Regions from separate parts of the Homo sapiens genome. Here region 1 is linked to region 2. The links come from fine-mapping of genetic effects on gene expression. A gene starts in region 2. The other region holds a variant in brackets. All regions are shown on one strand. Distances are from middle to middle.

Region 1 (4,400 bases), 830 kb after region 2:
GGCTATTTAAACATAATCTCGTTTAAAGTAAAAATTAAATTTACCCAATGGTACAGGTATTGAGGCAATGACTAGTCACTCTGACAGGGAAGAAACCATACCCATCTTGCTTATCCCTGCAATCCAACTGAATAATAGGAAATTCAGTTCCAACACCTATCTACCCAGAGTTAGGTCAATTCCAACACCTACCTACCCAAAGTTAGGTCAAATTTCACAGGTTAAAAGCAGAGTCCTCCATAAGATTCTCCTCTTCTCAGACACCAGCCATAAGCTCTGGGGTTCCCAGGCCACCTGCATTTCTAACTGGCTACAAATTCTGGGGTTCTCACTACTCCCTTGGTACTGTAATTCATTTTAACAACTCACAAAACTCAGAATAGCACCATATTTATAACTACAGTTTTATATAAAAGATACAAATTGGGACCAACAATGAAAAGACACATGGGGTGAGGTGTGGGAGGGTCCCAGATACAGAGCTTCCACATCTTCAGGACACATCACCCTCCCAGCATATCAATGTGCATCACTAACCGGGAAGTTCAACTGAGCTCCAGGTGTCCATAGTTCTTATTGGGGTTTCATTATATAGACATGATTGATATTAGTACATGATTGAACTCCATCTCTAAGGCTCCTCCCCTCCCCACAGGTTAGCCTGACATCACACAGATCAAACCGCAATGCTCTAATCACACGATTGGTCCTTCCAGAGTAGCCAGTCCCCATTCTAAGTCATCTCATTAGCATAAACTCAGTCATGGTCAAGGAGAGGGCATCCATGAATAACAAAGACATTCCCCTCACTCAGAAAATACTTTAGACTTAGAGGTTACCTCCCAGGGACCAAAGTTTAACCAAATTCCTTACTATACAACAGGTCTCTACTTGAATATGACTGTTCTTATTGTCCTCAGACCATAAACAGTACCAGGTCAGCTCCTTTGCTAAACAGGCCTTAGCTCTCTGCTTCTGCCTTTTGATACACTCATCGTACTCATAATCACTTGCTCTTCATCTCCCCTCCTTAAGCTTAAGGTCAAGAACCATGTCTGTCATATTCACTACACTTCACCAGTTCCTCACACTAGTTAAGGAACATAGTTAATATAATCAAATATTTGTTGTTAGGTAAATTCTATCTCCATGCCTTTATTCATAGGTGTGAAAATGACATTTACAAACATAAAGCTAGCACCAGGCACACAGTAGCTACAGTAAAAACAGGTATGTATATAAATAAGATAACCAGGAAACCCCCCAATCATTGAAAAAACCTTTGGAATAGATTTGAAATATCCTTCATCTCAAATCCTGTTGTGTCTACCAGAGTCCTGGGAAAATGTGAATCAACAGGCACAAAATAACAGGACTTCTATATTTTTCATCCTGAAGGTGCTGATAATGGTGATGGGGGAAGGGAGACATTGATTGATTTTCTTCTTTATTCAACTTCTAGTTGAGTTTCATTAACCTTTTAGCAAACAATGATGTTCTAAACAAGCAAAGTGTTTCTTCGAAGTTTATTCCCCCCTAAATACGTGGTAATAGTATTTGAAAGTGGATTTCTATTTCAATTGCCACCCAAGCATCCTTTTCTCTAGCCTGTCACCAAAAAAAAAGATTATACATAATATGATTTTTTTTTAAAAAAGTGGAATTCAAAATTTAAATTTGCAATGAAAAACACAATCATCTTAGTTCAGTCAATAAAAAGATAGAAAGTGAGCCTGAGTATTTTGATCCACCCACTTACTGCAAAGTTCCACATAACTTTGACTTTCAGATGAAAATATTTTCAATAAACATTGGTAGAATCAAACTGAAATCTGATTCCTCATTTGTCTAAGTCATGTTCTCCAGCAATTCTGGGTTGTAAACTCAATGGTAGGAAGTAGAGCTTATGGAATGTCATAGCTGGAAGCAATATGCATAATCAGAAAACAGAGATCCATAGAGGACAAATAACTAGCTCTACTTTCCACACCAAGTTAATGGCAGAGATGGGACCAGAATCCCATCTCCTGACTCTCTACTTCCTAACATTGTTTCTATATCACATTATATTAATATTTCTTTTCTATGCCCCAGAGTTTACAATAATGTTCGGCACATAATAAATGCTCAGTGAATCATGCCGATTTTGATTTCTTAAAGTGTTTTGTCTAACACACTGTGAAGCATGATTCCATATTTTCCTTTCATATATTTAGTTATACTTTTGCACCTACACAGATGACATATGGCTGGTCATATAGCACTGCTCTGCTGAGAACTCAATATGTCTGCATTTCTTCTGTCATCCTTCTTCCATCTCTCCCCAATCTGTGCGCTTAAAAATAAAGGTGCAGCCCTACACAACATACTCTTCATGGATTGTCACTATCTTGCCAGGTGGTAGACTTGCTCTTTTAGTTCCAGTCTTAAAAGCAAACAAGAGTATTTGTTGTAAATGATTTAAAAACTTGACTTGTGGGTGGGAAAAAATATCTCATCCCTCCCAAGACATTCAAACTTTGTTTTTGGTTTCACTGGACTTCAAAAAGACTACAGCTAGCATTTATGATATTCATTTGCCTTTTAAACCAAAGTGGTTGACACATGTTA[G/A]TCTCTCAAATATGTGTTGAATGAAATGTGTGTGAAAACATGTGATGTGAATTATTTCACCTTAAACTGCAATGGGATGTGTTTTTATGCATTCTACATTTGGGTACCTTCGAATAGAGTGTTTCTCTTCAGGTAACTAATTAATGAATATAGGAATTTACACAGGAGCCAGCACCACCATTTGAAAAGACAGATCATATCAGATCTTTCCTGCTTGAATTATTTTAACGGCTTTCACTTAGAATAAAATCAAACCCGTAACATTAGCCTACATGTCCCACATAATCTTGCTCTAGGTTCTTCCCTAGCCTCATCTCTATTGAAACTTCTTTTCATTCATCATCAGCCACCATGCTTTCTTTTCACCTCCTCTTATTTCAGCTCTTTAGGAGTCTTTGCACATGCTGTTCCTGCTGTTTAGAATATTCATTGATATGGTTTGGCTCTGTGTCCCCACTCAAATCTTATGTCAAATTGTAATCCCCATGTGTTGAAGGAGGGGCCTGGTGGGAGATGATTGAATCATGATGGGGCAGACATCCCCCTTGCTGTTCTCATAATAGAGTTCCCAGGAGATCTGGTTGTTTGCAAGTGTGTAGTGCTTCCCCCTTCACTCACTCTCTCTCTCCCACTCTGCCATGTGAAGAAAGTGCTTGCTTCCCCTTCGCCCTTTCACCATGAAGGGCCTCCCAGCCATGCTTCCTGTACAGCCTGCAGAACTGTGAGTCAATTAAACCTCCTTTCTTCATAAATTACCCAGTCTCAGGTAGTTCATTATAGCAGTGTGAGAACTGACAATGTGTTCCCTATGCTCCTCCTCCCACCTCCCCCTGCCAATGAATCATGTCTCTTTGTGTCCATACTCCTATGTAATGATATTTTGCTGCACCTCCCAGCAAATGGTAGAAACTATTTCTCTTCTCCTTAATCTGGACAAGACTAACATAATGCAATGGAAGTAACATTCTAGAATTTCTAAAACCAGGTCTTTAAGTGGCCTTATAGCTTCCACTTTTGCTCTCATAACCCAACTGCTATGTAAGAAGTTTAAGCTGTCTTGCTGAAGAGAGAGGACATATGCAGAGAGAAATCCTAGGATAGTAAACCAGGTAGAAAGAGATGCCACATGGAGGAGAACTAAGGTCCTTTGGCTAATAGCCAGCATCAAGACCCAGACACACTAGTGAGGCCATCTTGGATTCTTCAGTCCCAGCTGAATTGACACCATATGGTCAGCTGAACCTGGCTGAACCCTGCCAAATTCCTGACTCAAAAAATTGTAAGCAATAAAATGGTCATTGCCATTTTAAATTTATATTTTTGTTACACAGAGTAACATTTTGTCTTGTTTACAGTTATATGGGTTTCAGCACACACACAGATATTTGTAATCACCACCACAAGTGGATTTAGCTTAACTTCAACATCCCAAAGCATGTTCTTGTACTGACCATCAGAAGTCAGAGCTCTATACCCACCAACCCTAGCAACCACTGATCTATTCTCTAAACCTACAGTTTTGCTTATGTCAGAGTATCATATAAACAGAATCATACAGTATTCAACATTTTGAGACTGGTTTCTTTCAATTACCGTCATATATTTGAGATTCATTCATGATGTATGTATTAATAGTTTGTAACTTATTATGACTGAGTAGTATTCTATTGCATGGATTACTCATCCATTGACATATTTTGGGGTTGGTTCCAGTTTTTGGTGATTTTGAATAAGGCTATTTTGAGTGTATATGTAGAGGTTTCTTTTCAAAAATAGGTTTTCATTTCTTT
Region 2 (4,400 bases):
AGCACTCTGGGAGGCGAAGTTGGGCAGGTCACCTGAGGTCAGGAGTTTGAGACCAGCCTGGCTAACATGGCAAAACCTGGCTCTACCAAAAATACAAAAATTAACCAGGCATGGTGGCACATGCCTGTAATCCCAGCTACTCGGGAGGCTGAGGCAGGAGAATCCCTGGAACCCAGGAGGCAGAGGTTGCAGTGAGCCAGGAACACACCACTGCACTCCAGCCTGGCTGACAGGGCATGACTCTGCCAAAAAAAAAAAAAAAAAAGGAAGAAGAAAAAAGAAAGGAAAGAAGTTAAGCCAAGGGCTTGTGTATTGAGGAACTGTGATATCAAAATAGAGATGGAGTAGAGGAGATGAAGTAGTTTTGCCCACCCCTTTTCTCAAAAAACATCCCCACATGGCCTAGTAGTTTGGTGGGGGTGGTGTAGGTGAAATAACCTGCCTCCAACTTTATGAATCACTAGACTAGAGAGATTGAGATAGACTTCGTATGCTGATCTAAGCAGTTGGAACTTAATCCTGCAGCATTTTGACATGGAAGACTTCTACACTCCTTGTTGAAATTTTAAGGAATCAAAAGAAAAAGAAAAACAAAAACAAAACAGAACAAAACCCATACCCTTTTCTCACTCCCTAGTTGAAACCAATTGAAAGATAAAGAAATGGAGTTTTATTATTGTATATCAAATGGAGTATGCAGCTTAAAGCTGTTGCCACGTGGGCTTGCCCCTTGTTCACCCCAGAATTAGACAAATGTATCCACCCAGTCACAGGTGGCCATGGACAGTCTGGGGCTCCTGTGTGCCAGAGAGTGGACCAGAAAGCACCTTCTGCAGGCAGGCAGGTAGATCCCAAGAAAGAAGGAAAGAAAAAGTTGAGATACTGGTGTTCAGTTCCTTCCAAACTCGGGGATCAGATAACTCAATGGGGACAGGTGGAGAAAGAGGCCAGGAGTGAAGGACAGCTGATGTCCCTCCACATGGCAACATAGGGATTAGCAATTGTAAGCACCTAATGCTCTTTCTAGCTCTGAAGCTATATTCTACAACGGTCTTGGTACTAGAAGATCACAGGACGGCTAATTTAGGCTACGGACTTTTTTTTCTTTCTTTCTTTTATCTTGAGATAGGGTTTTGCTCTGTCGCCCAGGCTGGAGGGCAGTGGCGTGATATCCGCTCACTGCAACCTCTGCCTCTTGGGTTCAAGCTATTTGCGTGGCTCAGCCTCCCGAGTAGCTGGGACTACAGGCGTGCACTACCACGCTCAGCTAATGTTTGTATTTTTAGTAGAGACGGGGTTTCACCGTGTTGGCTAGGCTTGTCTCCAACTCCTGGCCTCAAGTGATCCGCCCGCCTTGGCCTCCCAAAGTGTTGGGATTACAGGCGCGAGACACCACCCGGCCCTAGGCTATGGATTTCTGTTGCTTTGGCTCTATCTGAAGTATTATAATCAACTGCACCCAAAGGAAAGGCTTCCAGTAGGTTGTCAAGCCGGGCAGTAGGAAATATGGGTTAGGTGGGGGATCTTCAGCTCCTTGCCTGCATCTGTTTTTTCTTTAAAGCAACTTTGATGATTCATATTTCAAATTTGTGTGGCCCATTCACCAGGTTTATTAATCCTAACAGAGCTGGACGTTTCTGCTTCCCCAGGCCCTGTGATTCTGAACGTCACGGGAAAAGAGCAGCATTGCCAGGTGGCCCTGGGGCATGGTGACAGCGGTGGTGTCGCCCACAAGCCGCGGCGTGGCATTCGTACTCAAGGTTTCCCCAGGCCCTGTGGGCGCAGGTAGCGCCCGGCCACCCTTCGGGGCTGGGGTATCGCGCCCACTCATCGCTGACACTCAAGCTCTTCGGCTCGGTTTCCTCGGTACAACGAGGCTCGGCCCTCTTTGGCTGGGCGGCTGGGAGGCTTATGAGACCCCGCAGGGGACAGGTGACAGCCCACAGCAGGTGCACAGCGAATGTCCGTCTTTCCTTCGTCGGCCACCGACCCTGCTCCTTCGTCTCTCGTGCCCGTGCTGGGCCCGTGCGAGTCACCTCCCCGACCCGCAGAACGGTTACGGCGCCAGTCGCACTGCTACCAGGCTAGGGCTGCCCTCCGGCCCAGGATCGGGTCCCCGGGACCGCTTGCGTCCCTGCCGCCTCGCTCCTCCAAACCCCAGCACGTCCGACTCACCGGCTTCATCGCTGGCCGCCCCACGTCGAGACCAGTGCCGCCTCCCTCTGCAGCGCCGGCGACTCACCGGTGCCCCGGCCGAGCCCGCGCCCCGCAGCTTAGCTCACTGGTTCGTCCTTCTGTGAGGTGGGCGCGGCGTCTTCCAGCAACCAATCAGATCCGCTTCTGGTTTCTTACTCCGCCTTTGGGTGGCCGAAGACTCGGCCTCTAATCGCTGACTGGTTCCTAGAAGACCTTTGAAAGACGCGCGGGAGGCGGGCCCTGTGGGACGTTGATTGGCTGGGAGGGCGCCCTCCTCCCGCCAGTTGGGAGAGTGCAGGGGGCGGAGGCGGGGCGGAAGAGTCAGAAGGCGGCCCTAGCGCTTGGGGGACGCTGGAAAGCTTTGCTTCTTGATGGCAGGATGTCAGCGTGGTCCATACGGTTGGGAGGTGATTTTTTTTTTTTTCTTGAGACGGAGTTCGCTCTTGTTGCCCAGGCTGGAGTGCAATGGCGCGATCTCGGCTCACCGCCACCTCCGCCTCCCGGATTCAAGCGAGTCTCCGCCTCACCCTCCCGAGTAGCTGGGATTACAAGGATGTGCCACCAAGCCTGACTAATTTTTGTATTTTTTGTAGAGACGGGGTTTCTCCATGTTGGTCAGGCTGGTCTCGAACCCGGGTTGGGAGTTTTTGTGTTTGTGACGGAAGTCTTACTATGTTGCCCAGGCTGGCCTCGAACTCCTGTCCTCAAGCAATCCTCCCGCCTTAGCCTCCCTTGTAGCGGCTACGGTAGGGAGTTTTTGTTTCTTTAAGTTGTATTTTTATTTTTTATTTTTTAAGGGCTCAGGGAAGCACTGTATTGGATCGTCACATGAAAAACATCACATAGACTTTGTAATTATATCTAGACATACAAATACTAGGGAAAAAACTAAAAATTTAGAGTATAAACATATTTTATATGCTTGAAGTTTTAGTTTATCGTTCCAGAAACTAGACAAGTTACAGTGTAGATCAATATTCCTGTCCCCCAAATATGAATTAAATTATATTGTGTGAAAGGGAAATTATAAAATGCCAGGTAAGATAGGTCTAAGGGCCAGTGTGTCTACATAATTAGCTGTAATCTTTTAAAAATGTGAGTATTTCTCCGCCTTCTCCAGTCCCCATTTAACTAGCCATGGGAAAGGAAGTCGCCTGGAGCAGATCTGAGAAAAATATGCAGAAATTTCAACCCCTGATTCATGTTGTGAAAGCCAATGGGTATAGAGCTATTAGAAGGAATTCCTTAGTAAAGAAGGTACCACAGTTTGATTTAGAGACTGTATTAGCTAGTCATGGTTGCCCAGAGATAAAGAATGAATAGGATGTGTATATATGGATATAGAAACAGATTTATTTTAAGGAATTGGCTCCTGTGCTTGTGGAAGCTTGGAGAGTCCAAAATCTGATGGGGGGAGGCCAGTGCGCTGGAGACTCAGGAAAGGCTGTACTTCGAGTCCAAAAGCTGTTGTAGAACAAAGAAGAGCCAATATTGCATGTAAAGTCTGAAGGCTGTCTACTGGCAGAATTACCCCTTGCACAGGGCAGGGTCAGCCTTTTGTTGTATTCAGCTCGTCAACTGATTGGATGAGGCCCATCCATATTATGGATGGCAGTCTGCTTTACTCAACGTTTCCCAATTTAATGCAAATCTCATCCAAAAACACTTTCACAGAAACATCCAGAATAATGTTTGTCCAAATAACTGGGCACCATGGCCCAGTCAAGCTGATGCACAAAATTAACCATCCTAGACACCCACAGAGATTTTCCATACTCGGGAAATCCTTTTAGATCTGTGCTGTTCAATATGGTGACCATATTGGCTGATTATCTCAGGCCAAATTAGAAAACAAAATCAAATCAAAGGCCAAATTAGAAAACAAAATTTTTGTGTGAACTCAAGGGCTACTTGGGAAATACTGCTCTCTTTTAATATAGATCTGCTTCCTCAGATGAAGGCCTTAGTAGGGTTAAGGAACAGACCACACCCACCACGTATTTATAGCTATTGTTTTGATATGTAGGTTTCCATTTCATATTAGAAACGGCCATGGTACTGTGTACAAGAGAATGTAGGTGGGTATGCATGTCTAGACGTAGAATCCCGCCTTTGGTCAAATAATGAACCCGTATTTAGGTGCACCTATCGACAGGTGACAACGTGCTAGCAGCCCTCACTCGCTCTCAGTGCCTCCTCGGCCT

Which allele goes with the higher level. Positions count from the first base shown, and alleles are read on the strand shown. Sizes are in standard deviations (SD) of each study's normalised expression.
In carriers of allele A in region 1, the expression in T cells of the gene that starts at base 2,246 in region 2 tends to be lower than with G alone (large effect, 0.86 SD a copy in GENCORD).

Evidence for each region. PIP is the estimated chance that this variant, and not a neighbour inherited with it, causes the effect.
Region 1: its variant is the best candidate, but not a certain one, in a credible set for the expression of CDKN3 in T cells (GENCORD, PIP 0.50).

Annotation. Positions count from the first base shown.
Region 1 is chr14:53,563,945-53,568,344 of GRCh38, reverse strand. All of the region lies in intron 2 of LOC105370504 (a long non-coding RNA gene), which reads right to left. Among named protein-coding and RNA genes, the nearest start is that of LINC02331, 280 kb to the left of the region's middle. The variant G/A (reference allele first, on the strand shown) is at 2,611.
Region 2 is chr14:54,394,853-54,399,252 of GRCh38, reverse strand. It overlaps CDKN3 (cyclin dependent kinase inhibitor 3), which reads right to left and starts at 2,246. Exons shown (of 8, transcript NM_005192.4): 1 at 2,176-2,246. The coding sequence starts at 2,184.